Homo sapiens: one gene and its partners. The protein of the gene in region 3 interacts with the protein of the main gene of each other region in a pairwise test. Each region holds a gene or a part of one and is shown on either strand. Other genes may lie near its edges. The genes, in order: PDZD4, CCDC136, JRK, TPM4 and PRICKLE1.

Evidence for each region.
Region 1: the proteins of JRK (region 3) and PDZD4 interact in a two-hybrid assay, tested with the Homo sapiens proteins (one large-scale study listed by BioGRID).
Region 2: the proteins of JRK (region 3) and CCDC136 interact in a two-hybrid assay, tested with the Homo sapiens proteins (one large-scale study listed by BioGRID).
Region 4: the proteins of JRK (region 3) and TPM4 interact in binary tests that used the Homo sapiens proteins (3 or more experiments, as listed by UniProt).
Region 5: the proteins of JRK (region 3) and PRICKLE1 interact in binary tests that used the Homo sapiens proteins (3 or more experiments, as listed by UniProt).

The regions. Positions count from the first base shown.
Region 1 is NC_000023.11:153,819,005-153,825,126, reverse strand, and holds part of PDZD4 (PDZ domain-containing protein 4), read left to right. Parts: intron 1-6,122.
Region 2 is NC_000007.14:128,797,281-128,803,402, reverse strand, and holds part of CCDC136 (coiled-coil domain-containing protein 136), read right to left. Parts: intron 2,218-6,122; coding exon 1,894-2,217; intron 1-1,893. UniProt on the Homo sapiens protein: May play a role in acrosome formation in spermatogenesis and in fertilization.
Region 3 is NC_000008.11:142,659,026-142,665,147, forward strand, and holds part of JRK (jerky protein homolog), read right to left. Parts: coding exon 5,327-6,122; 3' UTR 1-5,326. UniProt on the Homo sapiens protein: May bind DNA.
Region 4 is NC_000019.10:16,085,183-16,091,304, reverse strand, and holds part of TPM4 (tropomyosin alpha-4 chain), read right to left. Parts: intron 4,883-6,122; coding exon 4,765-4,882; intron 3,279-4,764; coding exon 3,208-3,278; intron 2,261-3,207; coding exon 2,185-2,260; intron 1-2,184. UniProt on the Homo sapiens protein: Binds to actin filaments in muscle and non-muscle cells. Plays a central role, in association with the troponin complex, in the calcium dependent regulation of vertebrate striated muscle contraction.
Region 5 is NC_000012.12:42,458,314-42,464,435, forward strand, and holds part of PRICKLE1 (prickle-like protein 1), read right to left. Parts: coding exon 6,082-6,122; intron 2,353-6,081; coding exon 1,496-2,352; 3' UTR 1-1,495. UniProt on the Homo sapiens protein: Involved in the planar cell polarity pathway that controls convergent extension during gastrulation and neural tube closure.

The DNA of each region.
Region 1 (6,122 bases), on a different chromosome or scaffold from region 3:
CACCTGCATGTGAGCCCCCATGGTGCTGGCAGCCATCCTGGGTGCGTGGCATTCAGCAGGGAGACACTGCAGACAGGGCCTTGCCCCTCCCCCAGACTCCCCTTTTGTTGTTGTTGTTGTTGTTGTTTGAGACAGAGTTTCGCTCTTGTTGCCCAGGCTGGAGTGCAATGGTACGATCTGGGCTCACCAAAACCTCCGCCTCCAGGGTTCAAGCGATTCTCCTGCCTCAGCCTCCCGAGTAGCTGGGATTACAGGCATGCGCCACCATGCCTGGCTAATTTTGTATTTTTAGTAGAGATGGGGTTTCTCCATGTTGGTCAGGCTGGTCTTGAACTCCCGACCTCAGGTGATCCACCCACACCGGCCTCCCAAAGTGCTGGGATTACAGGAGTGAGCCACCACGCCTGGCCCCAGGCTCCCCTTTTTGTAAGGGGGAGACCATCGCCAACATGTAGGCAACTGCGGGGGAGAGAAAGTACTGCTTGAGTGCGGGAGCGTGGCTGGCAGCCAGTGTCCCCTCTTCAGCGACGTCTTCCTCCAAACTGCTCTCCCACCCACCAAGCCAGGTGGCTTCTCTGGCTCCCTCCTGCTTGCATGGGGGCTTCCTGTGAGCAGGGATTTGGGTCTGGCATGGGCACTCTGCCTCCCCGCCTCACCAGCACCAGATGCTGCCAGCACATCCACGCTGGCCTCCACCCTTCCAGGGGAAAGCTGGACTCTCAGTCAACTCAGTGGTTCTGCCGCAGAAGCTGACTGGGGAAGAAGCAGGCTCTGAGAAAGTCCTTGTGGAGTGGAAGAACAGAGGGCTGGACACTGAATTCTGACTGCCATCTTCTGGACCAGGTCATCCTGTTTTGTGTCATTGTCCCAAGATTGTAGAATGCCCTTTCCCCTCTCATCTCGGGGTTCCTGAGGACTGTCCAGTCTGCTGAAATGAAATTCGATAGTGCCAGAGAGCAGATTCGTGGTTGCAGGGATGGGCAGAGGGGCATGAGGACACTTTTGGGGAAGATAGAAATGGCCACTGTCCTGACGGTGGTGATGGTTCCCCAGGTTCATGTATGACATATGAACACCTGCCCTTTGCACACTGAAGATGTGCAGGTTACCACCCAGCAACAGACCTCACCAAAGCTTTAGAACAGGAACTCCATGGCCACATGCACGCATCCTGGGGAGAAAGGTGTCCTTTCCTTCCTTCTACTTCAGGGGCCCTGCCAGAGAAGGCAGTGCAGTGTGGAGATAGGAATGGAGGCAGCCACCAACTGACAGCTGTGTGGCCAGGGGCAAGTCGCTGCATGGCCCACTGGCTCAGTGACTCAGTTTCCTCAACTGTGAAATGGCAGTGAAGAGTGCTTGCGTCCGAGGGCCATTGTGACAAGGAAAACAGATGGTGTGTCCCCCGGGATCTCACTGGGTGGAGGAGGGAGTTGCTGCCCTCGGGCCATTCAGTTGGTCATTAAGAAGTGGAAATTGGCTGGGTGCGGTGGCTCACGCCTGTAATCCCAGCACTTTGGGAGGCCGAGGCGGGTGGATCATGAGGTCAGGAGTTCGAGACCAGCCTGGCCAGCATGGTGAAACCCCATCTATACTAAAAATACAAAAAATTGACCAGGCGTGGTGGCTCACGCCTGTAATCCCAGCACTTTGGGAGGCTGAGGTGGGCGGATCACCTCAGGTCAGGAGTTCGAGACCAGCCTGACCAACATAGAGAAACCCCATCTCTACTAAAAATACAAAATTAGCCGGGCATGGTGACACATGCCTGTAATCCCAGGTACGCGGGAGGCTGAGGCAGGAGAATTGCTTGAACCCGGGAGGTGGAGGTTGTGGTGAGCTGAGATCACGCCATTGCACTCCAGCTTGGGCTCGAAACTCCATCTCAAAAAAAAATATATATATATATATTAGCTGGGCATCATGCACCTGTAGTCCCAGCTACTCGGGAGGCTGAGGCAGGAGAACTGCTTGAACTCAGCAGGTGGAGGTTGCATGAGCCAAGATCAAGCCACTGCACTCCAGCCTAGGTGACAGAACGAGACCCTGTCTCAAATAAATAAATTAATTAAATAAAAAATAATGAAAAAGGAAATTATATGGAGAAGGCCTTACATCTGGGTATGTCACAGTTAATGCCCAGTGACAGAAGAATGTCCAATATTATTCTGAGAATTTCTCTCAGGAAAGGGACCTCCAAGTTTTGAAGAAGTGTGATGTAGTACAATATTAGTTAGGACAGCCTGGGCAACATATTGAGACCTTGTCTCTACAAAAATAAAAAATTGCTCAGGCGTAGTGGCATGCGCCTCTAGTCCCAGCTTCTGGGGAGGCTGAGTGGGAGGATTGCTTGAACCCAGGAGTTGGAGGCTTCTGTGAGCCGTGATTGTACCACTGCACTCTAGCCTGGGCAATGGAGCCAGACTGTGTCTGGAAAAAAAAGAAAGAAAGACAGAGAGAAAGAGAGAGAGAGAGAGGGAGGGAGGGAGAGAGAGAGAGAGAGAGAAAGAAAAAACAGATGGACAGGGAACAAAGCGGAGGCATATGTGGTCATTTTGCACAGGAGTTGGGCCGGAGGAGGCGAGGCTGAGCAGCCTGGGGCTGGACAAGATGTCCTCCCTTTCAGTGCATTCTGCCTGTCCTCATGGCTGCTTGGAGCATTGAGAATGAAAAACGCTGCAGAGGGAATATTGCTTTGATTGTAAAACGCTGCAGAGGGAATATTGCTTTGATTGTTGCTAGATGTGAACTGTGCCCTTAGCCAGTCAGGTTAGCCTGAGGTGGGTGGGAGGATGGGTTTAGTTGCTGGGCCACGTGCCTGGAAAGCTGTGAATATGTACCCGAAGGTTGATCTTGAGAATGGCTTCAGGAAGTGGTTGGCTTTTCCTGTGCAAGGTGTGGGACACCCCTCTTTTCCTGTGTGTTTTTTTTTTTTTTTTTTTTGAGACAGAGTCTTGCTCTGTCACCCAGGCTAGAGTGCAGTGTTGTGATCTCGGCTCATTGCAGCCTCCGCCTCCTGGGTTCAAGCAATTCTGCCTCAGCCTCCCGAGTAGCTGGGATTACAGGCACCTGCCACCACGCCTGGCTAATTTTTGTATTTTTAGTAAAGACAGGGTTTCATCATGTTGGCCAGTCTGGTCTCAAACTCCTGACCTCTAGTGATCCGCCTGCCTCGGCCTCCCAAAATGCTGGGATTACAGGCGTGAGCCACCGCGCCCGGCCTCCTTTCTGCTTCTGAGCCAGGACTATGGAGGTGTCTGAGAGGCCGCCGCTCTCCCGGAAAGGTGGGGGCCAGGTGGATTGATGAGACTTCAGCAGACCCTGGGCTTCGGGGAGGGAAGGAGAAGTGAGGGGAAAGAAAGATGCCCTCATGCAGAAGGCCTTCGTTGAGGTCTGCCCTGGTTCCTCCAGGGCGCGCTCTGAGTCAGTACAGCGCCACCCTCCACCCGAAGTCCTTGTTAAGGTGCACTTTCTGACTGAGCCACTAGCATGGGGCCTGGGATTCTGCACTTCTCACAAGCTCCCAGGTGATGTGGATCCCACTGGCTGTGAGTAGCCAGGGCCTTGGGTAGGGACCGGGAGTAGATCTATGGTAGCCCCAAACCACATTAACATGGGTGGTGAAGTGAGGTGTTGTTTTTTTTGTTTGTTTGTTTTGTTTTTTTTTTTTACAAATAGAGGGTAAAAATTGTTTACAAATAGAGGGTAAAAAAACACACATAGAGGGTAAATCAGAACATCCAGGAGTCGTTGCCTACGTGAGGGCTTTACAGGACATAACTTGTTCTTCCCTGCCATGTGCAGCTAACTGACCCCCTTCCCTGTCACCGGCACCCCTACCGGTATACATGTCTCTCATGGACGCCCAGACACCCCTCCCCCGACTAACTGCTCAAAGGCCTTTGAGATGAAGCCCTCCCATGTTTCTGTCTCTCCTGCCCCCAGGCAGAAAGGGTGGGCACAGAGTTATGGAAGCGGGTGGTGTGGCTTGCCCAGGAGGCCACAGTTGGGGGCGTGGGCAGCCATGCTACTTGCCGGGCCTGTCACCTCTTTGTCCCTGCTAGAATTCTAACATGTTGGTGGAGACATTTTGCAGCCACCAATGCAGTAATTAATTCAGGCAAAAATCATCACTGGATGCCAAAACCATTAGATGTAAGGTCGTTGGGGACAGAATATTCACAAAGTCTCCAAATATTACCCCAAATTACCTGTGAATCAGGAAGGGAAACTGCGTCTTTACAGAGGAGAGATCTGGCAGCTGCCACCTGGACCATGTGATCAAACAGCCTCCCCAACAGTGGGGCAGCCTGACCCTGCCAGCCGCCAGATGCAGGGCTGGGGAGGAGACATACAGCATCTCCTGCAAGGTGCTCTTGTCAAAACGCTCAGCCTGAATCTCACCGCGGGAATGAATCAGGCAAATTCAGACTCTGGCGCATTCTATAAGGACTGGTCTCTTCCAAGAAGTCATTCCCATTAAAGTAAAAAATATATATATTTTTTTCTAGATTAGAGAGGAGACATAATAACTAGAGACCTAACAACCGAATGTAATATGTGTGCTTCTTGATTGAATCCTAGATTTTTTGTTTGTTTGTTTTGTTTTTGAGATGGAGTCTCTCTGTGTCACCCAGGCTGGAGTGTGATGGTGTGATCTCAGCTCACTTCAACCTCTGCTTCCTGGGTTCAATCAATTCTCCTGCCTCAGCCTCCCAAGTAGCTGGGACCATAGGCTGCACCACCACGCCTCGCTTTTTTTTTTTTTTTTTTTTTTTTTGAGATGGAGTCTTGCTCTGTCGCCCAGGCTGGAGTGCAGTGGCACGATCTCGGCTCACTGCAACCTCCTCCGCCACCCGGGTTCAAGTGATTCTCCTGCCTCAGCCTCCCTAGTAGCTGGAACTACAGGTGCAAGCCACCACGCCCGGCTAATTTTTGTATTTTTAGTAGAGACGGGGTTTCACCATATTGGCCATGCTGGTCTCGAACTCCTGACCTTGTGATCTGCCCGCCTCAGCCTCCCAAAGTGCTGGGATTACAGGCATGAGCCATTGTGCCCAGCCTCAAATCCTAGATTTTTAAAAAAAGCTATAAGGGTGTTAGCGGGACAGCTGGGGAGATGTGAGGCTGGCCCATTGTATGAGTGCGGAATTCCGTGCTAAGGGTGTTGTGGTTCCACGGAGAATGGGACTGATGGCATCTTGCTTTCAAATGCTTCTGCACATGTGTGTGTAGAAACCCCGAGAGCAGGTGTGGGGAATCTGCAGATGTTCCCACATGCTTGTGGGCGGACAATTTTCAAAATCCCGAGCTGGGGAAACATGAATGGGGACTTTGCTGGGTCACTGAGTGGGTGAATGTAGTGAGCCTGCGGCTTCTCCTTTCTCCTCTGATGCTCTACTCGTTGGGAGATCCCCCGATGCCTGACTTGGCCTGGAAGCTACAGTCACAACTGCTTCCAAGGTGTCCTGGATACTCCAGACGGCAGAGCTGAGAGCCAGCAGGCAGGTCAGAGCTCGGCCCCGGGCAGAGGATAACTTCCTGTCTCTGTCCTTCCCCAGCTTGTTTCCTACTCTACAGCAGTGGGGTAAGGGGAGTCCGAAGGTGGCAGCCCCCCCACCTCCGTGGCAGCCACGGGGGCCCCTGGAAGTGATGTGGCTTCACCTCCCATCCCGCGCGTTGCCAGTGAGAGTGAAAGGGGTCGCAGGCGCCGTGTGACAAGCACTTGGGATTGCGAGTCTCCCAGGCCACAACTGTTTTCTTAGCCTCTCCGGCCTCTCTTCTCGGCTTCCCAGAGATTCCTGATCAGCAAGAGGGCGTCGCGCCCCACCCGGCTGTGCGCCTGCCACCGCTGGGTGCAGGAGGGTGCCTGGGGCAGAGCCTGGAAACAGAGCTCAGCCTCCGACGGGGTTGGCGGGGCGGGCGGGCAGGAGTCCTGCCAATACAGCCACCAGCGTGGCGGCGCCGGGACGAGTGTGGTCCGCCCTGCTCCCGCAGCCGCAGCCACCCCGCCGCCGTCGCGGCGCGCTCTTTGTCTGCGGCTCCGGGCTCAGGGGGCGGGGCGAGCGCGCCTGGGGCTCCGCCCTCTCCGCCTAGGGCGCCCCGCTTCCCGCGTCCCCTAAGGC
Region 2 (6,122 bases), on a different chromosome or scaffold from region 3:
GTGGGAGTACAGGCATGAGTCACCATGCCCACTTTTAAGGCTGTGATGATACAAACACCTGTATCTGTTTTGTTGCTTCATGACTAAGAATTATGTTGGCCGGGTGCAGTGGTTTACACCTGTGATCCCAACATTTTGGAAGGCCAAGGTAGAAGGATCATTAGAGCCCAGGAGTTCGAGACCAGCCTGGGTAACAGAGCAAGACTCTGTGTCCACTAGCAAAAAATTGAAAAAGAATTATGTCTCTTAGAACATTAATTCTACTGATATTTAAAGAACACTAACTTGCTCTAATTAGAACACAAGACCTATCTTACCTGCTGGAAGATTCAACACCCTAAAAGTAACTTCTAATGTTTCCTCTTAATTCTAATCAGAATTCCTTAGAATACTGCAGATTACCATATAAGGGAGGAAGGAAACTAATCTTTAATGAAAACTAACCATGCGCTAAGCATTAGACTTGATAGTTTCAGCCTCAGATTTGGTAAGTGTGCAAGTGATTTCAACATGCTTCACATTTCATTTAATTCCCAAAATAGCTCTGTAAGGTTTTTTTCTTCTTTAAATAAACTTTGAATTTTAGAATAGTTTTAGATTTACAAAAAAGTTGCAAAGGTAGTACGGAGTTTCCTGGGAGGGTTCTCACCCAATTTCCCTAATTGTCAACATCTTACATTACCATGATATACCTGTCATGACTAAGGAATCAAATATTGATACATTACTATTAACTAAACTCCATAGTTTACTTGGATTTCTCTACATTTTCCCTAAGGTCCTTTTCCTGTTTCAGGATCCCATCTAGCTATAAGGTTTTATTAACCAATTTTGATTTCATATCCTGGATATAGAAACAGGCTCAGAGAAAGACCATAACCAGACCTCCTACGTTCATCCTGCTAATTAGTGGAGCTGAGATACTGAACTCAGGTCTGTTTGACTCCAGCCCAAGCCTTCCCACTGTGCCAACCTTCTTCTCCCAGCACCATTTAATCTAAAGGCTCTTCTGAGAGGCTTGATACAGCTGGAAAAACTTGCAGTTCTTTGATTCCTTGTTGATTGCCTCTGCTTGACCTGGCCAAATATAGGACCTCCATTATACTCAGATTATAAATCTAGCCTCAGAATAAAGGCAAACTCTCTGATGTCATGAATCCTAGCAACTAGCTGGGAGACTCACTGTCTGAAAGCAGGGCTCTAGGCTTTTGGGTACCTCATGTATCACTCAGAATAACTTTTCTTCTCTAGCTGTCTTTTGTTCCGATTTGTTGCCCCCCAAAGCTTCTATTTTGAGGAGAGCTAATGGAACCTAAGAATTAGCATCCCTGCACCTGGAAGCAGGGCCAGAGGCCCCCTATAAAGCATTCCAGGCAAAGCACCATGATGCCAGGGCAGCAGGAAGAGTTTCCCAAGGTGACAGGTCCCTCTTTGCCCATCCTAGAGCTGGAAATTTTCCCAGGAAGGGTTTTCCCATAGTCAAATCAACAAAGACCCAATGACTCTCTGAAGAATTCCCAGGGTACCTCTCCATGGTGCTATTTCTTACACCACCATGGACTGGTTATGTAACATCTGGGTAGGTTTTTCCCCTTTACTGTCTTTTTAAAATTTTTATTTAAATTTTTCTTTTAGAAAGAGATAGGGTCTCACTTCATTGCCCAGGCTGCTCATGAATGCCTGGGCTCGAGTGATCCTCCCATCTTGGCCTCCCAAAGTTCTGGGATTACAGGCATGAGCCATCACGCCTGGACCCCTACAGTCTTGAATTCAACCTGGAGGTTTTTTCTAGAGATTCCCAATTCATGATCTAACACCACCTTCTACCATTTTCCTATATATTATCTCCTTTCCTCTGCTTGACTTTACTGACCCACTTGATGGCTCTCATACCTTGTAACCCAGAGTAATCTGAGAGACCTAAACTACCGGATGGTTCAGAGCTCTTCATTTCCATTTCTGCACGGAGGGAGGCGATCTCCATCTCATAATCTCCCCGAATGCGTTCCATGTCTTCAAGTTCATTCTGCATCCGGCAGAGATCCTCCTGCAGGGATGCTATGTCACTCTCATGTTCAGTTGCGGAATCCTCTGCTGCTTGCCGCAGACTCTGGATCTCAGCCTGGGCCAAATGCAATTCCTGTTCTATTTCCTTAAGTTCGCTTTCTTTCTCATGCTCTAACAGGGAAATCTCCTCCCGTAGAGAACGCAGCTCACCTGCAAAGTCCAAAGGTTGAGATGATCAAGAGGGCAGGTGAACTAACCTACCATGTTCTAGAGGCACAAAATTAAAGGGAGACTTATTTCTTGTCTGCAAAGTCCTGAAAACCTTGTCTCTACCCCATCAGAGAAGTGTAGCATCATGCCGGACGGAATAAAAGGAGTACCTAAGAAGGGAAAAGAGAGTGACTCTATGTAGTAAGGTCCAATAGAAAAGTAGATTTTGAGGCCTGGCACCAAAACAATCACTTAGTCTACTGTAAACAAAAAGTATTTCATGCTTCTAAGGAATCACCTGACAGTTAAAGACCTAACTTCATTTATAGTATTTTCTTGATGCCCTGAATCTTTCTAAAAATCCCCTGACTCAAAAAATGTATACAGACTATTTTCACCTATTCATCCTGAGAGCTCAGAAATTACAGAGCCTCAGAGTTCCCATGACCTACCTGTGGTAAGTACTGGACCTAAAACAATGTGCATTTAGAGTTCACAACTCAAATTCAAATATAAGTTCACTGCATAATAACCAAACACGGGATAATAATCTAAGTGTCAGTCGATAAGGGATTGTTTAAATTGATGATAGGCTGGGAGCAGTGGCTCACGCCTATAATCCCAGCACTTTGGGAGGCCAAGGCAGGTGGATCACTTGAGGTCAGGAGTTCAAGACCAGCCTGGCCAACATGGTGAAACCCAGTCTTCGCTAAAAAAAAAAAAAAAAGAAAGCCAGGTGTGGTGGCACGCCCCTGTAATCCCAGCTACTTGGGAGGCTGAGACAGGAGAATCATTTGAGCCCGGGAGGCAGAGGTTGCTGTGAGCCAAGATCGCACCACTGCACTCCAGCCTGGGCAACAGAGTGAGACTCGGTCTCGAAAAATAATAACAATAATAAATAAATAAACTGATGATAGTTAAATAGAATATCATGCAGCCATTTAAAAGAAAGTATCAGATCTATGGTGAAAACAAAGAAGTTTCCATATTAACTGAAGAAAAAGAGCTGTAAAATATATGCTATGATCTAATTTTTGCAAAAAATATTTTATGTATAGTATATAACACACAAATGGACAAACATATAGAAAAAGGCCTGGAAAGATCTATGCCCAAACCATAATGAGTAGTTGTTTCTGAGGTATGGGATAACATGTGGTAAGGTTTTTACTTTACATATCATATCTATCTGTGCTGTTTGGATTTTCAGAACAAGCCTATATTTTCTATTTTTTAATTTACAAAATAATGAGTTAAGAGTTCTCTGTATCTATGGAGCATCTCAGAGTTTCTAGACACATGTACCCATCTGGGATCAGAACGAAAAAGTGGAGAGAGTAAAAGGCACTGACACCAACAGTGAATTTAGGATTTGAGGGCCAGGATTAGAGAATTAATGAGGATTGGGTTGGGAGGGTCAGGATTTTCCCATAAATCCTTTGCAAGGCACATTCTCCCATCCCCTTCCCCCAACTTCTGCTCATTCTACTCACCACTCAGATGTCAACTTTTCTAGCCTGTACCTCCACTTCCTCAAAAAAAAATAAGAGAAGTCCTCTATTAAATGGTCTCATAAAACCTTGTACTTTGCTATATGTGTGTGTGTACTTAAGTCTCCCCTTCACTTGGTTATAAGCTTTATCGAGGCAGAGAGCATATCTGGTTTGCTCACCATTACAGCTCCAGGATCTAGTATTGTGCCTGAAAACGAAGCTCAATAGATATTTGATGTATTCATGCATAAGTAAGGCAGCAGTTCATCTATTCAACAAACTTTTGCTAAGTATCTCTTATGTGTACAGAACTAAACATTTGGGGTTTGGGGGGTTTTCCTTTCTGTTTTTGAGACAGTCTTGTTCTGTTGCCCAGGCTGGAGTGGAGTGGCATGATCATGGCTCACTGCAGCCTTGACTTCCTGGGCTCAAGCAATCCTCCCTCCTCAGCATCCCTAATATCTGAGACTACAGGCATGGGCTACCATGCCCTGCTTTTTTTTTTTTTTTTTTTTTTTTTAATGTAGAGATGGGGGTCTCTTTCTGTTGCCCAGGCTGGTCTCAAACTCCTGGGCTCAGGCGATCCATCTTGGCTTCCCAAAGTGCTGGGATTACAGGCATGAGCCACCACACCTGGCCCTGTTTGGATATTTTTTAAAAATTAGAATAGAATCTAGACTTTCAAAGAAGACAAATTTGGACACGCTTCATAGATAGATGCTGAGTGGTGAGGGCATCTCAGGGGAAGATCTACCCTGCTCCCCTGAGCTCACATGTGGAACTATGGGCATGTCTTTTGCCAATCTTTCCAGTTCTAGAATGATCCTAGCTGTTACGTCTCCTTGATCTATTCAACAACTATTAACTGATCCTTAACTGCGTGCCAAGGCCAAGAATCTCCTGTTAGATTCTCTGACTTCCTATTGGAAGAAAAGTCCGCTCTACCCCCACTACTGAGCAGCACAGTGAGGTCTGTCTAGCTAGGGAGACACAAGAGGAAGCTGGCCATTAGGACAAAGGCCCTAGAGTCTGGGGTGGGTGTTCTGGAGAAACAGACCAACCTCCACCTCCCTAATATGCTTTTGATGTTAGGGTTCAACTCTCTCTTAGGTGCTTCTGGCCCTAAAAAAATGGTATTGTCGGCCAAACACGGTGGCTCACACCTTTAATCCCAGCACTTTGGGAGGCTGAGGCTGGTGGATCACTTGAGATCAGGGGTTGGAGACCAGCCTGGCCAAAATGGCGAAACCCCATCTCTACTAAATATACAAAAATTAGCCGGGTGTGGTGGCTGGCATTTGTAGTCCCAGCTACTCGCGAAGCTGAGGCAGAAGAATTGCTTCAACCCAGGAGGAGGAGGTTGCAGTGGGCCAAGATCTCGCCACTGCACTCCAGCCTGGGTGACAGAGCAAGACTTCGTCTCAAAACAAACAAAAAACTCTACTGAGGAGAGAATCGCTCTGGAACCCTATTTTCGGCCGGGCGCGGTGGCTCACGCCTTTAATCCCAGCACTTTGGGAGGCAGAGGCGGGCGGATCATGAGGTCAGGAGATCGAGACCATCCTGGCTAACACAGTGAAACCCCGCCTCTACTAAAAATACAAAAAATTAGCCGGGTGTGGTGGCGGGCGCCTGTAGTCTCAGCTACTCGGGAGGCTGAGGCAGGAGAATGGCGTGAACCCGGGAGGCGGAGCTTGCAGTGAGCCGAGATCACGCCACTGCACTCCAGCCTGGGCGACACAGCGAGACTCCGTCTCAAAAAAAAAAAAAATAGAACCCTATTTTCCCAGGTAGTTCCTGCCTGCATCTCTGCTTCAATTCTGACTTTTCGCCCGTTTGAATGGAGGAACGTTCCTTCTCCAGGCAAAGGCCTTTTTTTGTACTGGATCTTTTCTTTCATTATACATGATCTAGCATTTCCTACCTTTGAAAAAAGAAAAGAAATAATCTTTTGACCCTATTTCCCTTACTTCTCTGCTTCTCTTCAAAATGACTACTGGAGTTATCGGTACTCACCTTCATCTCCCATTTCCTCTCCAAACCCAATCCAATCGGTGCCTCCATGCACTGAGATGTCTCAGGGTCCTCTCTCTTGCCAAATCCAAGACCATCTCACTTGACTTAGCAACCTGACACAGTGGATCACTGTCTCCTTGAAGCACTTTCTGCTCTGGCTTACAGGGCATGACATGCTCCAGGAGTTCCTCTCACTTTACTCTTTTGTTCATTTCTCCTTCTATACTGGACCTCTAAATACTGGAGTGTCTCTGGGACTGGACCCTTTCTCCTCTTCTGGTGTCTCTCCATGTGACTGCACCATTATTTCCCATGGATTCTAATGCCAATTATATGCTAATGACTCCAAATTTACATCTCCGGCCCTGTTTTCTCCCTGGTTCTGCCTTTATATAT
Region 3 (6,122 bases):
GGGAGAATGGTGGAGGAAGAATGGATTCCTAGTGTATTTTTTCTCTTCAGAACTGACAGCCCATCAAGGTACAATGAAATAGAAAAAAGGCTGGCCAGGTGCCAAGTCCCAGCTCAAGCCTGGCAGCTCCTCCCACTGAGCCTCATGGTCACCCCAGAGGACAGGCCTTCCTTTCACACACATCAGAAATAGGGAACCCAAGACCTCGAGAGAGGAAATGGGCCCAGGGACATGCCTTGGCTTGGGGTGGCTTAGGACCAGGGCAAGACGCCTGACCCCAGAGCAGACCATGCTGACACTGGGCAACACATTCCCTGCTCTGGACCTCAGTTCCTTTGGCTACTAAGGAGGCCCAACGATCCTCGCCTGTGTGGGACGGGGCTACCTGCAGACATAGAGGGCCTTTGAGCACCTCGTAGCTTGCTTCCCAGCCAGCCTGGGTGTGGAAATGGCCGTGCTGACAGGCTCTCTGCGATAGGGCCCAGCCATGGCCAGTGGGCCTCCCACAATCTGCCCCTGGGTGCAGGGCCTTGAGCAGGGAGGCCATCGTGCTGCCTAAGAGACCAGGACCCAGCAGGGGCCATACCCAGATTCAGAGGCTCAGGACCACCACGGAACTGAAAGGAGGTTCAAGGCCTCAAACAAGAGTGGCCCCTAAAACAGTTGGTAAAGGAGTGTTTTCACCTCTGTTTACAGTTGAGTGCACTGCTCAAGGTCATGCAGCTGGTGAACAGCAGGGAGTGAGCAGTGGAGAACGTGAGGCTGGTCATTAGGAGCAGGTAGCCCTGGGTCTCCCTCTGCCCTCAGCAACTTCACACCTGCCCCTCCCTGGGCCCCAGTCTCATCCCTAAACAGGAGTGACCCCACCTCATTTCATGTCATCATCACTGCCCTGCAAGGGAAACAACAGATGTGCAAGGTCTGAGGGTCCATGTGTAGAAGCAGAGGCCAGAGCTGACACCACATGGGCAAAGGAGTGGGCGTGTGGGGCTGGGAGCTGGGGCTCATGTGGGAGGCTGGTGGCTGCCATGGCTGCAGCTCCTGGCCCTGCGGACAGCCAGGCCTGGGGTCTACAAGAGCTGGGCAGGGAAGAGGACAAACAAGGTCTCACAGGTCCATTCTCCCCAGCCTCCCAGTAGGCAGCTGAGTCCAACGCAGTGCCCGAGAGCTCAGCCCTTGTCAAGGAGAGTCCTCGAACCCAGAGGGGGCTGGGTAAGCAGCAGAAGTGCAGAAGCCCTGCCCAGGCCCTGCCTCCCAGGCCACCACCCACCCCTCACGGCTGCCACACCCACCAGCCCATGACTGTCCACATCCTGACCCCTACCTACCTCATGACCTCCCCGACCCTGATCTCCACACCTGACCCCAAAGCACATTTTGTTATTTTTTGTTTTTAGAGATTAGGTCTCTCACTCTGTCACCCAGGCTGGAGTGCAGAGGCCATAACTCACTGCAGCCTCAAACTCCTGGGCTTGGGGATCCTCCCGCCTCGGCCTCCTGAGTAGCTGGGGTTACAGGCACATGCCACCACACCTGGCTCATTTTCTTTTACTTTCTGTAGAGATGGGGTCTCCCTATGTTGCCCAGGCTGGTTTCAAACTCCTGAACTAAAGTGATCCTCCTGCCGTGGCCTTCCAGAGTACTGGGATTTCAGGCAGAAGCCACCACACCCGGATCCCCAATAAGCACATTTATGTGGGGCGTGAGGTGAGGTCCCTGAGGTGCAGTGTGGACGGGTCTTGATTTGTCCCAAGTTGTCGCTGCCCTGTGCCACAGCCTCCCAAGAATGGATGCAGTCTACACCTTCTGCAAACCCCTGCCTCAAACCGTGTCCCTCCACAAGCACATCCAGCCACTGGGACCCTGAACCTCCTCCAAATGGACTTTAACTGGGGACAACTGATGACAGTCCTCCAACCCCAGCGAGCTGGGGAAGCCGTGGGCAGGGGCTGCGACTTCCTTTCTTCCAATCAACTCCACCACTAGCAATCAATCACTTGGCCCACTGGATAAGAACAGTGGCCTGCGACGTCAGGGGCAGTCCAGGTGCTCTCCATCGCATGCTCAGCCATGGCTGAGCACGAATGAAGCATATGGAAGTCACGCACAGACAGGCCCAGGGCAAGGTCTGCTCTAGACCCTCCTATGCAGGAGACAGACAACTTCCAGGACAGCGTGCCTGGGGTGCTCGCAGAAGGCCAGGCTGGCACAGGCAGGACAGGTGTTCTGTAAACCAACCCCAACGTAGAAGGGGCTGAAAGACCACCTACCCATCCTAACCCCTGAATTCACCATGCCACCCTGAAAGTATGGCCTCTCCTGGGCATCCCGAGGGATGGGAGCTCCCAGAGTGGAGGCTGCCTGTCCCGAGTGAGGACACAGGAGCGCCCTCAGGCCTGAGCACTCAGGGGTGCCACCCCAAAGATGAAGGCAGTGGTGGAAAGAGGTTCTATTAGCAGGCTGGAAGCAGCCACAGAGGTCCCAAACCATATGACGCAGCACCTGCTACCCCACGAGCCACTGGAAAACTGAGGCTGCAACTTGCAGGGGCACTGTGAGAAGACAGGGAGTGGCTCCAGCCTGGTGCTCACAGATAAAACGCGGAGGCATTTAAACAGGACCAGAGACTTTCTCGCTCTGCTCTGGCAAGCTCCAGGGCTTCCCAGGGGCCTCAGCAGCCCCAGAAACAGAGTGAAGAGACACAGCCTCACAGAGCTGTGCTGTGGTGTCTGGTACAGCGGGGCTCCACCTGAGAGGGCTTGGGGAAAAAGATTCTGAGGCTAAAACATTCAACCACTTGAGCTTCTGAGACGGGTCAGGAAGTGAAAACAAAGTGCTCGGAGGACACGGCAGTCTCCATAAAGCGTTCTGGGGGACAGGACCGAGGCAAGAGGTATGCACCAGGCAGCTGGGCCCAGCAGCTCAGAGATGAGTACGCTCTGGGCTCCCTAAAAACCTCACTCCAGCAGCGAGCCCAGGTGAGGAGGGGCTGCAGGAGGAGCAGGGCCCGAGTCCCCTGGGTGGCACAAGGGATTCCAGCCACAAGGGCTGCACCTAGAGTCAGGCTCCAGGCCTTGCTGCAGTTGGTCTGGAAGAGGGGCACCCTGAGGACACAGCCACTCACTGGGGACAAGCGCCTACCCATCAGCCCAGCACAGTCAGCACAAGAGCAGATCAAGAACGGGAAGAGCTCAGGTCCTGAAGAGCTACAGTCTGACAGGGACAAGCCATGTCCAGAGGACTCAGGAGAGCCAGCCAGGAGCTCGGCCAGCTGGCCTGCCCATGCCCTCCCCAGCTCCACCCACCCAGGATGTCCTACTGTTTCAGAGCCCTCGGGACATGTTCTAACCTCCTGTGTTGCCTCAAGCAGCTGCAATCCAGCAGTCTTGGTTAAGAGGCTCTATTAGGAGTGACACGTGAGCCCAGAAATGGCACAAAGTACATGATGTGCAGAAGTTCCCCAGACAATGAAGCAAACAGTGCGGGTGACACCACAAAGACAATGGGACACAAATGGGAACTGGGACTGTCGTTCAGCACCGAGATCTTTAAAAACTATTTGGCTTTTATAATCTTCACACATGCATTCAAAGCAAGAAACACACACTTCCAGGACATAGATAGGGCTCTGTCAGCAATGACTTTTGCCCCTGTATCTACAGAGATGTGAAAGTACGAGAAACCACAGCGAGCCAAATCCTCTCCTTCATGAGAACAGAGGTTTCAGTGGAATCAACAGCAGACGCTGGAATGCAAACTACGTGCTGACTCGGCCAAATGATATGAATTTAAGAGAGGAAAAGAATTCAAGGGCAAAGCACTGAAAATAACATAGCAAGAAAAACCTATTTAGGCCGAGTGCTGTGGCTCACACCTGTAATCCCAGCACTTTAGAAGGATGAGGAAGGAGGATCGCTTGAGGCCAAGAGTTCAAGACCAGCCTGGGCAACACAGTGAGACCCTGTCTCTACAAAAAAAATAAAAAGGCGCGGTGGTGCGTGCCTCTAGTCCCAGCTACTCAGGAGGCTGGGGCGGGAGGATCACTCAAGCCAGGGAGGTCGAGGCTGCAGTGAGCTGGGATCACACCACTTCACTCCAGCCTGGTCAACAGAGTGAGACCCTGCCTCAAGAAAAGAAAAGGACAATGCACCTATTTTATGCTCGCTGAAAGACGAGGCTAATCACTGTGGACACAGGGCGTTCTGGAATCTCAGCTGCAGGCAGTGAGTGTTGCCCGTGAAATGGAGATGCCGCAAAGCAACTACAGACATGGAGAAAATAACCACATCCTCTTACAACCGCCTCTGTGAAAACTGACCAGGACAGACAACTCCTCCCCAAAAGTATTACTAACGTGCTAACAGCTGGGGATAAGAGCACACATACTGCTAGAAATCTAAGCAGCCTGTTTTACTGTTTTCAGTGACTTACGTGCAAACCTAAGACTAATCTCTGAATGTCTGATCAAGACGTATTCATGTAAAGGCCATAAGTATGAAATTCTGGGCAACATGGTACATTGGACTCTGAGCCAAAATGCCAAAATACCACACAGGGTCCGTGTCCTCTATCCGGGTGATGAGCAGGGCCTGGTCAGCCACTCCTACTTTCTTCCCAGAAAGGAACTCTACCAAGTCAACTCTCCGTGGGGCCCCCCAACATCTTGGGGCCAGAGCCCATGGGACAGGATCTGCGGGTAACAGAGGATGGTTCCAGAGTCATTCTGCTGAATGAGGCCACAACTGAAGTGAGATGTGCGGCCTGTTCAGCCGCTAGCAGGCCAAGAACTGAGTCCCAGCTCTCGGGCCATCGGACCTCAGGCAACCGTGCTCGGGGTCCACCCAACACGGGGATGGCCGCCAGCCCAGCAGATAGAGCCTTCTGAGACGAAGCCTGTCCAGGGGCGGTGGGCATGGCCTCCTGTCGGCCTGGAGGGCAACTTCTCTCCACGTGGACAGACTGACATCTCCACCCTCTGATACTGCAATGATCAGCCAGCGAACACGAGACCAGATCGGCTCAGCCTGGCCCCCATTCCAGCCAGGGTGCGGCTCTGGCTTGTTCTAGGCTAGGGTGGACCCTTCCAAAACATTTCCTCACTTTCGGATGACACGGCAAGTGATAAAATAAAACCTGTATTGACAGGAACCTCGGGCACAGACCGTCCTGGGCACCCGAGCCACACCCGTGGGCGACCCACTCCTGGAAGGGCTCTTGAGTGTCTGCACATGCCCTCCTGCCTCAGGTGGGGTCGGGGCACAGGACCATGCCACTCCAGGGTGTGGGGAGAAACAGGGCCAGTGGCCAGGGCAGGGCAGAGAAGCCATCAGTTGTCACCTGCTGTGGATGAGCAGGGCAAGGGAGACTGAGCTGTGGCCCCACAGCCACCAGGGCCCTCCTGGAGGGCTTCAACCTTGACCACAGCCCCGAGGGCACCACGCCGCCTCCTCACCTGCTGCTGGCTCCGGAACACGGCACGCAGCGCCCGCAGCTGCCCCACTTCCTGCGCACTGAAGCATGGCTGCCGCTCCGCAAAGCGCAGGACTGCGTCAAAGGCCACGGCCGCCTGCTCCCAGGCCACCTCCTCGCCCTCACCAGGATCTCCTCTGCCGTCCTGGTCAGCTTTCGGAGTCTTTTCTGAACTCCACACAACCTCTGCTGGCGACGTGGCAGCAGGGGGCCGTCCCCCTTCTGCCTCCCTTCCCGCTACCCCCCAGCTGGCGGCCTGGCGCTGGCGAAGCTGGCCCGGGCAGGAGGAGCCTTCCTTCACAAGCTCCAGGATGTGTGCAAAGGACTTGTTGTGGGGCTTCACTGGGAAGCACTCTGCCTCCAACTCCTCCTCAGAGGAGGAGCCTTCGGCAAACGCAACCGACGGCCACAGCTTCCTCCAGGCCCGCCTGAAGACGTGGCTAGGGACTGCGTTCCAGGCACAGGCCACGCTGAATATGGCATCGTTCATGTTGTAGCGGGCGTGGGGGCCCTGCAGGGGGACCGGAGGGTTAATGAAGTTCCTCATGAAATCTCTCCGAATGCCCTGCTCCATGGGCTGCACCAATGAGGCCACGCTGGCAGGCAGGAAGATGGTGAAAACGTTACTGGACACCAGCTCGGCCTCCTGCGGG
Region 4 (6,122 bases), on a different chromosome or scaffold from region 3:
CGAGGTGGGTGGATCACTTGAGGTCAGGAGTTTGAGACGAGCCTGGCCAACATGGTGAAACTCCGTCTCTACTAAAAATACAAAAATTAGCTGGGCGTGGTGTGTGCGCCTGTATTCCCAGTTACTCAGGAGGCTGAGGCAGGAGAATTGCTTGAGCCTAGGAGGTGGAGGTTGCAGTGAGCTGAGATCGTGCCTCTGCACTCCAGCCTGGGCGACAGAGCAAGGCTCCATCTCAAAACAAAACAAAACAAAGCAGCTGAGGTATTAGTGGTGTTACATCTATCCCCCTGGCCCGGGGCAGTGTCTGGCATACACACACCAACTGGATTCATTCCTTACACATCCTAGTATCAGATATATGCCAGGGCTGGCACATATGGGAGACAGAGGCAGGTGGATCACTCGAGGCCAGGAGTTTGAGATCAGCCTGGGCAACATGGTGAAACACCATCTCTACTAAAAAAAAAAAAAAAAAAAAAATTACACACACACACTACAGATATATGCCAGGCACAATGCTAGTACTAGGGACACAACTCTGAACAAGATGACATGGTTCCTGTCCTTACAACTTACAATCTAGCAAGGAAGGCATGCAATTAATGGAGTAACTATAATAAATGTAAGAAATCATAATGCCAGCAAAAGTATAGACAGGGCTACACAGCAGAGAAATACCTAACCTAGATGAGAAATCAGAGAAGGACTCTCAGAAGTGATGTTTAAGCAGAAGCTCAAAGGATGAACAGGAGGCCAGGCTCGGCGGCCTCCCAAAGTAATCCCAGCACTTTGGGAGGCCAAGGTGGGAGGATCACTTGAGGCCAGGAGTTCAAGACCAGCCTGGCCAACATGATGAAACCTTGTCTCTACCAAAAACTAGAAAAATTAGCCAGGCACGGTGGCCCACGCCTGTAATCCCAGCACTTTGGGAGGCTAAGGTGGGAGGATCACTTGAGGCCAGGAGTTTAAGACCAGCCTAGGCAACATAGACTGTGCTCTATAAAAAAAAAAAAAAAAATACAGTTTTGGAGTAGTGGCACATGCCTGCAAGTCCTAGCTACTCAGGAAGCTGAGGTGATAGGATTATTTAAGCCCAGGAGTTTGGGGCCTGCAGTGAGCTATGATCACGCCACTACACTTCCAGCCTAAGCAACAGAGCAAGATCTCATCTCTAGGCCAGGTGCAGTGGGTCATGCCTGTAATCCCAGCACTTTGGGAGGGCGAGGCGGGCAGATCACTTGAGATCAGGAGTTCGAGACCAGCCTGGCCAATGTGGTGAAACCTCATCTCTACCAAAAATTATAAAAATTAGCGTGTAATCGGGAGGCTGAGGTGGGAGAATTGCTTGAACTTGGGAGTCGAAGGCTGCAGTAAGCTGAGATCACGCCACTTCACTCCAGCCTGGGTGACAGAGTGAGACCCTGTCTCAAAAAAAAAGAAAAGAAAAAAAAAGGCTGAATAGGGGTTTATCAAGCAAAAGGAAAGCCACACCCAGTTGAGTGAATAGCAGGTGGTGGCTGAGGTGGGAGGATCGCTTGAGCCTGGGAGTTCAAGGCTGCAATGAACTATGATCATGCCACTGAATTCCAGCCTGGGCAACAGAGCGAAGCTCTGTCTCAAAAAAAAAAAAAAAAAAGTGGGGGGTGGAGGTGATGGGAGAACAAAGAATGTCTGTGAAACTGCAAAAGCAGGAGCAAGAATGAGGAAGAGGCTGGGAAATTCAGTGGGGTTCGGCCGTGGAAGTGTGTCCTTTGTTCCCGACGTAGCTGCCACGTAGCAACTGCTTTGGGTGCTGTTTCAAACTAAAAAGCCCAATTCCACCTCTGATCATTGCTATACCTTTGAGATGGTATTTCTGGAGGAACCAGGGGAATCAGGTGAGAGGCAGGCTCTGTATTTATTTATACAACTATGCTCAGATCTCGCTAAGAAGAGCCTCATGTTCTATCTCTATCCTCCTGAGATGGAGATCAAAGATGGTGCTCAGACCCCATGGAAGAGGACTCAAGAGTGTGCAGGAGAAATCCAGCTCTTTCTGTAGGGGAAAAACCCTGGCTGCCAGGCACCAACGCTACTGTTAAATAAAGGGCAGATTCCCCATAACCTGACAGGCTCCTGCATCCCTCGGGAGAAGAAAAGAACAAAGTCCAGCAAGCCACCCTCCAGCTCAAGCCAACCACCTACCTTTTCAGATGCAGCCTCCAGAGATTTCAGATTGTTAGTAACATTCTTGAGTTCTTCTTCCAGGTCACCACATTTTCTGCACAAAGACAAAGGATTTTTGTGTCTTATCTTCCCTTACAGCCGGCAATAATAGCAATCGCCCCAACAATAAATTTTCCAAAGGAGAAACCTACACAGCTCCCCCGGTGGGGGGCAGAAGGAATGTGGGGAGAAAATGTTAATGGATTTTTCTGCAGTGTGATACTATGGGCTTATCAAAGGCTTATCATACCAGGCAGAGGCGAGGTGCGCCCGAAGAGTATTTGGAGGGCTTGGAAAACACTCCTGGTCTTTTGCCAAGGGTAAGGCTGCAAGGACTTGTGAAATCTATGATTGATGAGGCCGACTCCGGAAGGTGTAAGAATGGGACTGAGGGCAGAAGGCGGGCAGAGAGCAATGGGAGTTTGCAGGGGACACTCCGGGAAGGAAGCCCGGAGTGGATTTGTGAAACCAGATCTCTCTCAGCACTCCCGGATGCTCTGTGGGGCTGAATTCCTCACCCGGGGCCAAGAGGACAGGTGTTTTGTTTTTCGGTGCTTGCTTGTGGGATTCTGGTTAAGCTTCTCACCTTCCCGCCAGGAATGTGTCACGGCCAAACACTGACAGGAGCAAAAGCATTTACATACTGACCGGGGGAGCCTGCCTTCTGGAGCAGGTCAGTGTTCTGTTAAGATGGCACAGCCCCCTGAGATATCCTCTCTGGGAAAATGGGACTTCTGGGCTTCCCTGCTGCCTCCTGTCTCACTCCTATTTCCTCATATCTTTGCAGAAAGGGTCAACACGTGGGCAGTGCTTCCCATGGCAGTAAGAACAAGTCACCACCTCTTTGTCACAGAAGCCAAGAGAAAAGATGAGCCATGAGCCCCTGACGCCCGTCCACTTGAGCAGAGACCCCGGTCAGAGCCAATTCCCAACACAGCCAGCTCCTTCCCACTCCGCCCCAGGAATCGAGCCAGCCTCGCTCAGTCCTGTTCTGCCACTCACAGTTCAGACACCTCCGCACGCTCCTCTGCCCTCTCCAGCTCACCCTCCAGGATGACCAGCTTACGAGCTACCTGCAGAGACAGAAAGGCCCAGCTGAGCCCGATCCCCACCAGCCGTGTCCTCTCCCATCCACTGCAGACAGCCCCCAATGATGCCCCACCCAGACCCCTAGACCAGCTGCAACATGGGTTTTTCTGGTGTTTCTTTTTTTTGCAGGGGGACGGAGTCTCCCTCTGTTGCCCAGGCTGGAGTGCAGTGGCACAGTCTCGGCTCACTGCAACCTCCACCTCCTGGGTTCAAGCGATTCTCCTGCCTCAGCCTTCCAAGTAGCTGGGACTACAGGCGCGTGCCACCACGCCCAGCTAATTTTTGTATTTTCAGTCGAGATGGGGTTTCACCGTAGTGGCCAGGCTGGTCTCGAATTCCTGACCTCCTGATCCACCTACCTCGGCCTCCCAGAGTGCTGGGATTATAGGCATGAGCCACCACACCTGGCCTCTTTTTTATTTTTTTATTCTTTTGAGACAGAGTCTCGCTCCATCACCCAGGCTGAAATGCAGTGGCTCAACCTTGACTCACTGCAACCTCTGCCTCCTGGGTTCAAGTGAATCTCCTGTCTCAGCCTTCCAAATAGCTGGGCTTACAGGCATGCACGACCATGCCCGGCTAATTTTTGTATTTTTTGTAGAGACAGGGTTTCACCACGTTGGCCAGGCTGGTCATGAACTCCTGACCTCAGGTGATCTGCCTGCCTTGGCCTCCCAAAGTGCTGGGATTACCGGCGTGAGCCACCATGCCCAGCCCTTTTATGTTTTTGACAGAGGGTCTTGCTCTGTCTCCAAGGCTGGAGTGCAGTGGCGTGGTCAGAGCTCACTGCAGCCTTGACTTCCCAGGTTCAAGCGATCCTCCTGCCTCAGCCTCCCAAGTAGCTGGGACTACAGGTGCATGCCACCACACCCAGCTAATTATTATTATTATTATTTTTAGAAATGGGGTCTCACTATGTTGCCCAGGCTGGTCTCAAACTCCTGGCCTCAGGTGATCCTCCCGCCTCGGTCGAAGTGCTGGGGTTACAGGTACGAGCCACCGCGCCTGGCCTTTTGCTGGCGCTTCAACTGAAAGAGCCATCCTGGGGCCTGGAGGAAATCCTGATTCTCTTCCTCAAGCCTGAGGAGCGAGGCAGACAAGAGGCGGGAGGGAAGAGCCGAGCCATCGAGGGAGGCAAAGGAGGGCCTGAGCTTGCATGGTCTGAAACTCCATGGCTTGGGACCACAATCCTCCATTTTTGCCCAACTGTGCCAAAACTCCCAGCTAACGACACAAGTGAGCTGATCATTCGGTTTTCCCATTACGTTAGACAAGCGTCCGCAGCACTTTCTGGCATCGTGGGAGATAGTTTCCTAGCCAAGTGGTTGTCTCTGGACAAACATATGTTCACGCAGGAGGACAGCTGACCTAACCGAGAGCTTCCTTTCGTTGGCCCCGGTGTCCTCCCTATCTCAGCAGATGCATTTCCTCCCACTTCCTGCTGCTGCGCCATCTGCCAGCCCCACTCACCTCCTCGTATTTGCGGTCAGCCTCTTCCGCAATGTGCTTGGCCTCTTTGAGCTGCATCTCCTGAATCTCCATCTTCTCCTCATCCTTCATGGCCCGGTTTTCTATCACCTTCATTCCTCTGCAAGGAGCAATCTCATCAGGACGGCCGTTCACTCACACCCCTCCACCCACCTCTCATCTATCTTTTCTTTCAGATGGAGTCTCGCTCTGTCATCCAGGCTGGAGTGCAGTGGCACGATCTCAGCTCACTGCAACCTCCACCTCCCGGGTTCAAGCGATTCTCCTGCCTCAGCCTCCTGAGTAGCTGGAATTACAGGCACCCGTCACCATGTCTGGCTAATTGCGTGAGACACCACCCCTAGTCCCATCTCTCATCTAAATGAGTCTCTGAATCTACTGAGCACTGTAACACACTGCAAAGATGGAACTCTGTGCACACATTTCCTTCATCTTGGTTTTTTTTTTTTTTTTTGAGATGGAGTCTCGCTCTGTCACCCAGGCTGGAGTGCAGTAGTGTGATCTCAGCTCACTGCAGCCTCCATCTCCTGGGTTCAAGCAATTCTCCTGTCTCAGCCTCCAGCATAGCCGGGACTATAGGCATGCACCACCGTGACCGGCTAACTTTTATATTTTTAGTAGAGAGGGGGTTTCGCCATGTTGGCCAGGCTGGTCTGGAACTCCTGACCTCAAGTGATCTGCCCGCCTTGACCTCCCAGAGTGCTGGGATTACAGGTGTGAGCCACCGCGCCCAGCCTCCCTTCATCTTTACTACCAGGCACTTTTCTAAGTGCCTTCACTTTCACAACTGCCCTATGGAGCAGGTAAATTATCCACATTTTACAAATGAAGAAACTAAGGCATAGAGAGAGGGTAAGTAACTTAAGGTTACAGAGCTGGTAAGTGGTAGAGCTGAGGCTCAGCCCTTGGCAGTCTGACTCCAGAGTCTGTGCCCCCTTTCTTTTTCTTTTATTTTGAGAGATGGTGTCTCACTCTGTTGCCCAGGTTGGAGTGCAGTGGTGCCCTGAGAGCTCACGGCAGCCTTGTCCTCTCAGGCTCAAGCAATCCTGTTGCCTCGGCCTCCTGAGTAGCTGGGACTATAGGTGTGCACCACTGCACCCAGCTAAACTAAAAAAAAATTTTTTGTGGAGGTGGGGGTTTTGCAATGTTGCTGAGGTAGGAGGATCGCTTGAGCCCAGGAGTTCAAGGCTGCGGTGAGTCGTGATTGCACCACTGCTCTCCAGCCTGGGTGACAGAGCAAGACGTTGTGTATTTATTTATTTTTTTTCTTGAGACAGGTTCTCACTCTGTTGCCCAGGCTGGAGTGTAGTGGTGTAATCATAGCTCACTGCAACCTTGCC
Region 5 (6,122 bases), on a different chromosome or scaffold from region 3:
TATCTGGATACATTTGCAAAGATTTATATTCAGAAAGGTAGTTTTGTTATTTATTAAGTGTTTATTAAATGCCTCCCTAAAGGTCCTGGATGCCACTAGAACCTTTAGTTAGGACTGAGATGTATATGCAAGAGTGGCACATATCAAAATATCTGCTCATTGGTTCAGATCCAACGTAAGTTTTCCTTGAACCAGAACCTCATATTAACTTACAGTACTCAATGGCACAGCATCCTCTAATTTAAAGATTTTAAAACAAAAACATAACCAGAAGACCCAGTTTTCAAAATTGCTGTTAAAGGCCAACAAATTAGTGGGAGGGAAGGAATAAAAAGGAATAACCTCTCTTAAAATAACAAATCTACAAAGTCCTCTGCCACAAAAGCAGATCTTTGTCATTTCCCATGAGATAATCATCACCTTGCTGAAAATGAGAAAGGCACCCCCCGCAGGCAGGGGGAAAAAACCCACTCGCTGAAACAGCTTCTACTTGTTTTTACCATATATTCCAGGGGTTATGTGTGTGGAGGGGTTGTTTTTACATTTATACAGTTTACATTGCTTGACCCATAAGTAACACTTGTAAGATTAATAGGGCCATAGTTTTAAAGAGTACTTACATAGCCCCACCATGCATACAGAGCCTTTTTTAATATTGGAAAAAAAAATCAAAAAAAGTTGAATTTTCCATCACTAGGCAATGTAAATTTGACCATCTACATTTATAAACCCTGACTAAAATATAAGCAATCAGTTCATCCATAAATTCTGGTTCCCTGGCAAATCTAGCACTGCAGCGTAACAAACGGCTTACAATTCAGGGATATAAAAATATCAGCTTTAAAATCTGAACTGTACAGTATATACATTAATATTTGCACCGTTAAATTAGGAATACACTTAAGTCTATGAAATACTAAGTTATAAATAGCAATGTTTTTTGTTTTTTTTTTTCAATCTGTAGCTGGCGCTGATACAATACAATGTTTACCTGGCCAAAGAGGGTTCGAGGGGACAAGCTGGCCTCACAATAAGATGCACAGTGTTAGCTAGGTCATCGTGACAGGCATGCCTCACACCAAGACGGACTATCAAGACCTGAGCCGACCTGACTTACATAAATGACAAACACTAGTGCTTTACAAAGGTGGCTGGAGTTCTCCATCTTCTAAAATCAACATCCAATCCCCTTCAGTCAGCATCTTCAGTATTCCCTTGAGGACTGGAAAACCAAAGCAGCTACGTCCATCTGTAACGCACCCGCACCGGACAGGCACGAGATGTCACGTCCACCTGGCACCATCCAAAGAGGGTAAATTGGAGAAATCACACCTTTCAAATGTTAATCTGACACTGTAAACAGCAGTTGAGTTCTCATTTACATGGGCAAAGAAAGCACTTTAAACTATTTTCACAACTTTCCTACGGAAGAAAAGGAAACGATTCAGACGGTTAATGGCTAAGTTTTAAACAAATGCTCTGCATCACTACTTGGTTAAGAAATAATACAATTTTTGCCCTTGTGTCCCTTTTTCTTCTTGGATTTTGTTGTCCTCTGACCAAACTGAGGGGTGGGAAGTGCAGATGGTGGACTAGAAAGGTCATCTGTATAGTAGGCAAATCTCTGTGGCCGGGGTTGAGGGATTGGTTGTCCAAGAAAATATCCTTCTTCTTCCGAGTCGGAAGAGGAGGAGGAGGAAGAACACCAGGAATCATCATCCTCGCCGTAGAGTCCCAGAAACCGATTCATTCCTGGGTTCTGCAGGCCATAATCGGAAGTGGCATGGGCGTACTGTCCGTAGAGATCAGCATTCTGGATGTATGCTTGGATCTCCCGGGCACTTTTATTCTGTATAAATTTCTCATAGTTATCGGGGGTGTACAGCCGCAGTCTGTCCTTGGGAGAGTATTTTCTTTCTGTAACAAGATTCAGGGCATTGTCGGAGCGGGACTTTCTACTTCTCCGGCGGCGGTGGTGATGAGACCTGGATCCCCTCTCTTCAAAATTGTAGACGCGTCTCCGAGTCCTTTCACTCATCGGAGGCTGCCGGATTTCAATGTCATAGTTCCCATTGTCAATGACATCATCAGAAAACTTGACCTGCTGGGGTCTGGATTGAGACTTGGACCTTCTGAGCACTGGCAGATGTACTGGCTTCTCTTCAGGCAGGATTTTCTCTGGACACAACTCTGAACTTAGACTCTTTAAGGACTCTGCACTCCTGTGCAGCATGGAAGAGTTCAAAGTTCCCATATTGCTCATCTTCTCACAATCTTCTGTTTCCATCTCCTCAAAATTTTGCAGAGAATACAATGATGGCCTTGGCTTGTTTTCTCCATCCACCGAAGCCCCTAGAAGAGAGGCCAAAACAAGATGTGCTTCTCAATCATCCTAATATTCGACAGTACTTAAAAGTAAGCTACTGAAAGGAAATATTTCAAAGAAAATTTCCAATCTCAATATTTGATTAAAACCCATAGGGAAAGCCAACATGTATCTATGCCAATTGAGAAGTGGTATAAATGCAGTTATTGTTATAAGGGGTGGGCACAGCCTTTTTTGTTTTGTTTTTTTGTTTTGTTTTGAGACAGAGTTTTGCTCTAGTTGCCCGGGCTGGAGTGCAATGGCGCTATCTCGGCACACCACAATCTCCACCTCCCAGGTTCAAGCAGTTTTCCTGCCTCAACCTCCTGAGTAGCTGGGATTACAGGCATGTGCCACCACACCTGGCTACTTTTGTATTTTTAGTAAAGACGGGGTTTCTCCATGTTGGTCAGGCTGGTCTCGAACTCCCGACCTCAGGTGATCCACCCACCTCGGCCTCCCACAGTGCTGGGTTTACAGGTATGAGCCACTGCACCTGGCCTGGGGCACAGGTTCTCTTATAAGCCTGGAGTCAAAGATTAGTTAAGTAGTTACGGCACATGGCATGAGCAGCAAAACTTTAAGAGCTCTTCACAGCAGCCTGTTCATTCATTAACATAAGATGTAGAAGCTTCTGCTCCTCAATTCATTAAAGCCACACTGCTTCATTTGGAGATCTTTCACATCAGTCCCTCCTTGGTCTCCATCATGAGCTAGTCTTCCTCATCTTATACTGAGGCTAGTGGTCAGCAAACTACAGCTCAACAGCTTGTTTGTGTATCAAGTTTTATTGGAACAGCCACACCTATTTGTTTACATATTGTTTATAGCTGCTTTCTACAGTGGCAGAGCTAAGTAGTCACACCAGAGACCGTAGGCCTAAAAAGGGCTATCGAGCCCATTATAGAAAAGGTTTGCTCAACCCCTGACCTAGATCTTCATCCAGTCTTTTCTGCCTTCAACGTGTAAAATATGCCACTTCCAGATTAATCTTCTATTGAAACATTTAACAAAACAGATATTGATCTCTTTTGATATAATAGGACCCAGGCATGTTAAGATAAATACATATAGCCCTATAGACAAAGTGATACTGTTGTCAACTGGAGACTACATAACTTCGTACTTATTTTTTTTTGAGATGGAGTCTCGCTCTGTCGCCCAGGCTGGAGTGCAGTGGCACCATCTCAGCTCACTGCAAGCTCCGCCTCCTGGGTTCATGCCATTCTCTCACCTCAGCCTCCCGAGTAGCTGGGATTACAGGCATGCGCCACCACGCCTGGCTAATTTGTTGTATTTTTAGTAGAGACGGGGTTTCACTGTGTTAGCCAGGATGGTCTTGATCTCCTGACCTCGTGATCTGCCCGCCTCGGTCTCCCAAAGTGCTGGGATTACAGGTGTGAGCCACCGCGCCCGGCCCTATATAACTTCATACTTTTTAAAGGGGGCCTATTTTTCAGCTTATTATTGTCAAGGAATGTCAGCCCCTAACACTTAAATGTGTACCAAGTTATGTTTAATTCTTTTATTTATTTTTTTTGAGACAGAGTCTTGCTCTGTCACTCAGGCTGGAGTGCAGTGGTATGATCTCGGCTCACTGCAACCTCCGCCTCCCAGGTTCAAGTGATTCTCCTGCCTCAGCCTCCCGAGTAGCTGAAATTACAGGCACATGCCACCATGCCTGGCTAATTTTCGTATTTTTAGTAGAGACAGGGTTTTGCTATGTTGGCCAGGCTGGTCTCGAACTCCTGACTTCAGGTGATCCACCTGCTTTGGGCCTCCCAAAGTGCTGGGACTGCAGGTGTGAGCTACCACACCTGGCCAAATTATGTCTATTTCTGATATTAAATTTAAAACTCCTAGCACTGGGCCTGGCAGACAAAAGGTGCTTACTCAGTCTCACCCACCATTCTTCCTCAACTCCCCTTTATTGCCGGCCTTATCTTTGACAAGTCCACAGAAGCCGGGGGGGTAGCTTTGCCGTACCCTTCCTTGTCACTGCAGTGTCTGGCACAAGTTATTCCTGGCAGGAAGCAGCTACTAAGCCTTTCCTGTCTACATTACAGAAGCATTACCTTCATCAAAGGGCTGGATGTCAGTAGTTTGACTATAAAACTAGCCATGCAACAGCAACATTTCTATAATCCAAAGACTTGTTGCAAATAATTTGCATAATGTCCTAGGTTCTAGGCCTAATCTTGCCTTTAGAACCTATGTAATGTTTGGCATTTAGCCTTTTGGTAATTCAAGTTTCCTCATTTGTGAAATGCAATCATATCATCCACTCTATATAGCTCAGGGTCATTTTAAAGATAAAATGTGGATAACTGGTATGACTGTGCTTTGAAAACATTAAAGTAGGCCAGGGGCAGTGGCTCACACCTGTAATCCCAGCACTTTGGGAGGCCAAGGCAGGTGGATCACCTGAGGTCAGGAGTTTGAGACCAGCCTGTCTCACAAAAATTAGCTGGGCGTGGTGGCAGGCGCCTATAATCCCAGCTACTCATGAGGCTGAGGCAGGAGAATCGCTTAAACTCAGGAACCTGAGAGGCAGAGGTTATAGTGAGCTGATATCGCGTCATTGCACCCCAACCTGGGTGACAAGAGTGAAACTCCATCTCAAAACAAAACAAAAAACTAGGAAAAAAAAGAAAACATTACAGTAATATTTTAGAATCTAAATAAAAAGTATTCAGCTGTTTTTGAGCTACTGTCACAGGGAAATTCAGGAAGATGTTTAAAAAAAAAAATGAGCTTGTGGCCAGGCGTGGTGGCTCATGCCTATAATCCCAGCACTTTGGGAGGCTGAGGCGGGTGGATCACCTGAGGTCAGGAGTTCGAGACCAGCCTGGCCAATATGGCGAAACCCCATCTCTACTAAAAATACAAAAATTAGCCAGGTATGGTGGTATGCACCTGTAATCCCAGCTACTGGGGAGGCAGAGGCAGAAGAATCACTTGAACCCGGGAGATGGAGGTTGCAGTGAGGTGAGACTGCGCCATTGCACTCCATCCTGGGCGACAAGGGCGAAACTCCACCTCAAAAAAAAAAAGAGCTTGTAAAGTGTGTGGGCCAATTTTGGTATCTTAGAATACATACAGAATAATTCAAGCGTACAATATCTTTCAGACACAATCCAGTTGTACACTCCTTCCTCCAATCAATTTCCTTCTCTTCAAAACAGGGTAATAAAACCTATCCCTAAAGACTGCACTGTAAATATATTTTATGCACATGCACTCACCTCACACATGTGTTTGTTTTGCTAGTGTTTGGTATTTAAGTGAGGTTCCTTCCTTCCCTTGATCCATGGTTTTGAATAACACACAACTCCTACTCATGCTGAATTGCAATTTTTTTTTTTTTTGAGATGGAGTCTTGCTCTGTTGCCCAGGCTGGAGTGCAGTGGCGCAATCTTGGCTCACTACAACCTCTGCCTCCTGGGTTCAAGCAATTCTCTTGCCTCAGCCTCCCGAGTAGCTGGGATCACAGGCCCATGCCCAGCTAATTTTTGTATTTTTAGTAGAGCCGCGGTTTCGCCATGTTGCCTGGGCTGGTCTCGAACTCCTGACCTCAAATGATCTGCCCACCTCAGCCTCCCATAGTGCTGGAATTATAGGCATGAGCCACTGCGCCTGGCTTGAATTGCAATTTTTTGAATACACTTTTTAGTAGCTCCTTTTTTCAAATACCCCATAATCCCTAGATTACGTACCTGTGATATTGGACAATGCCAAAGAATCCATCGAATCCCGA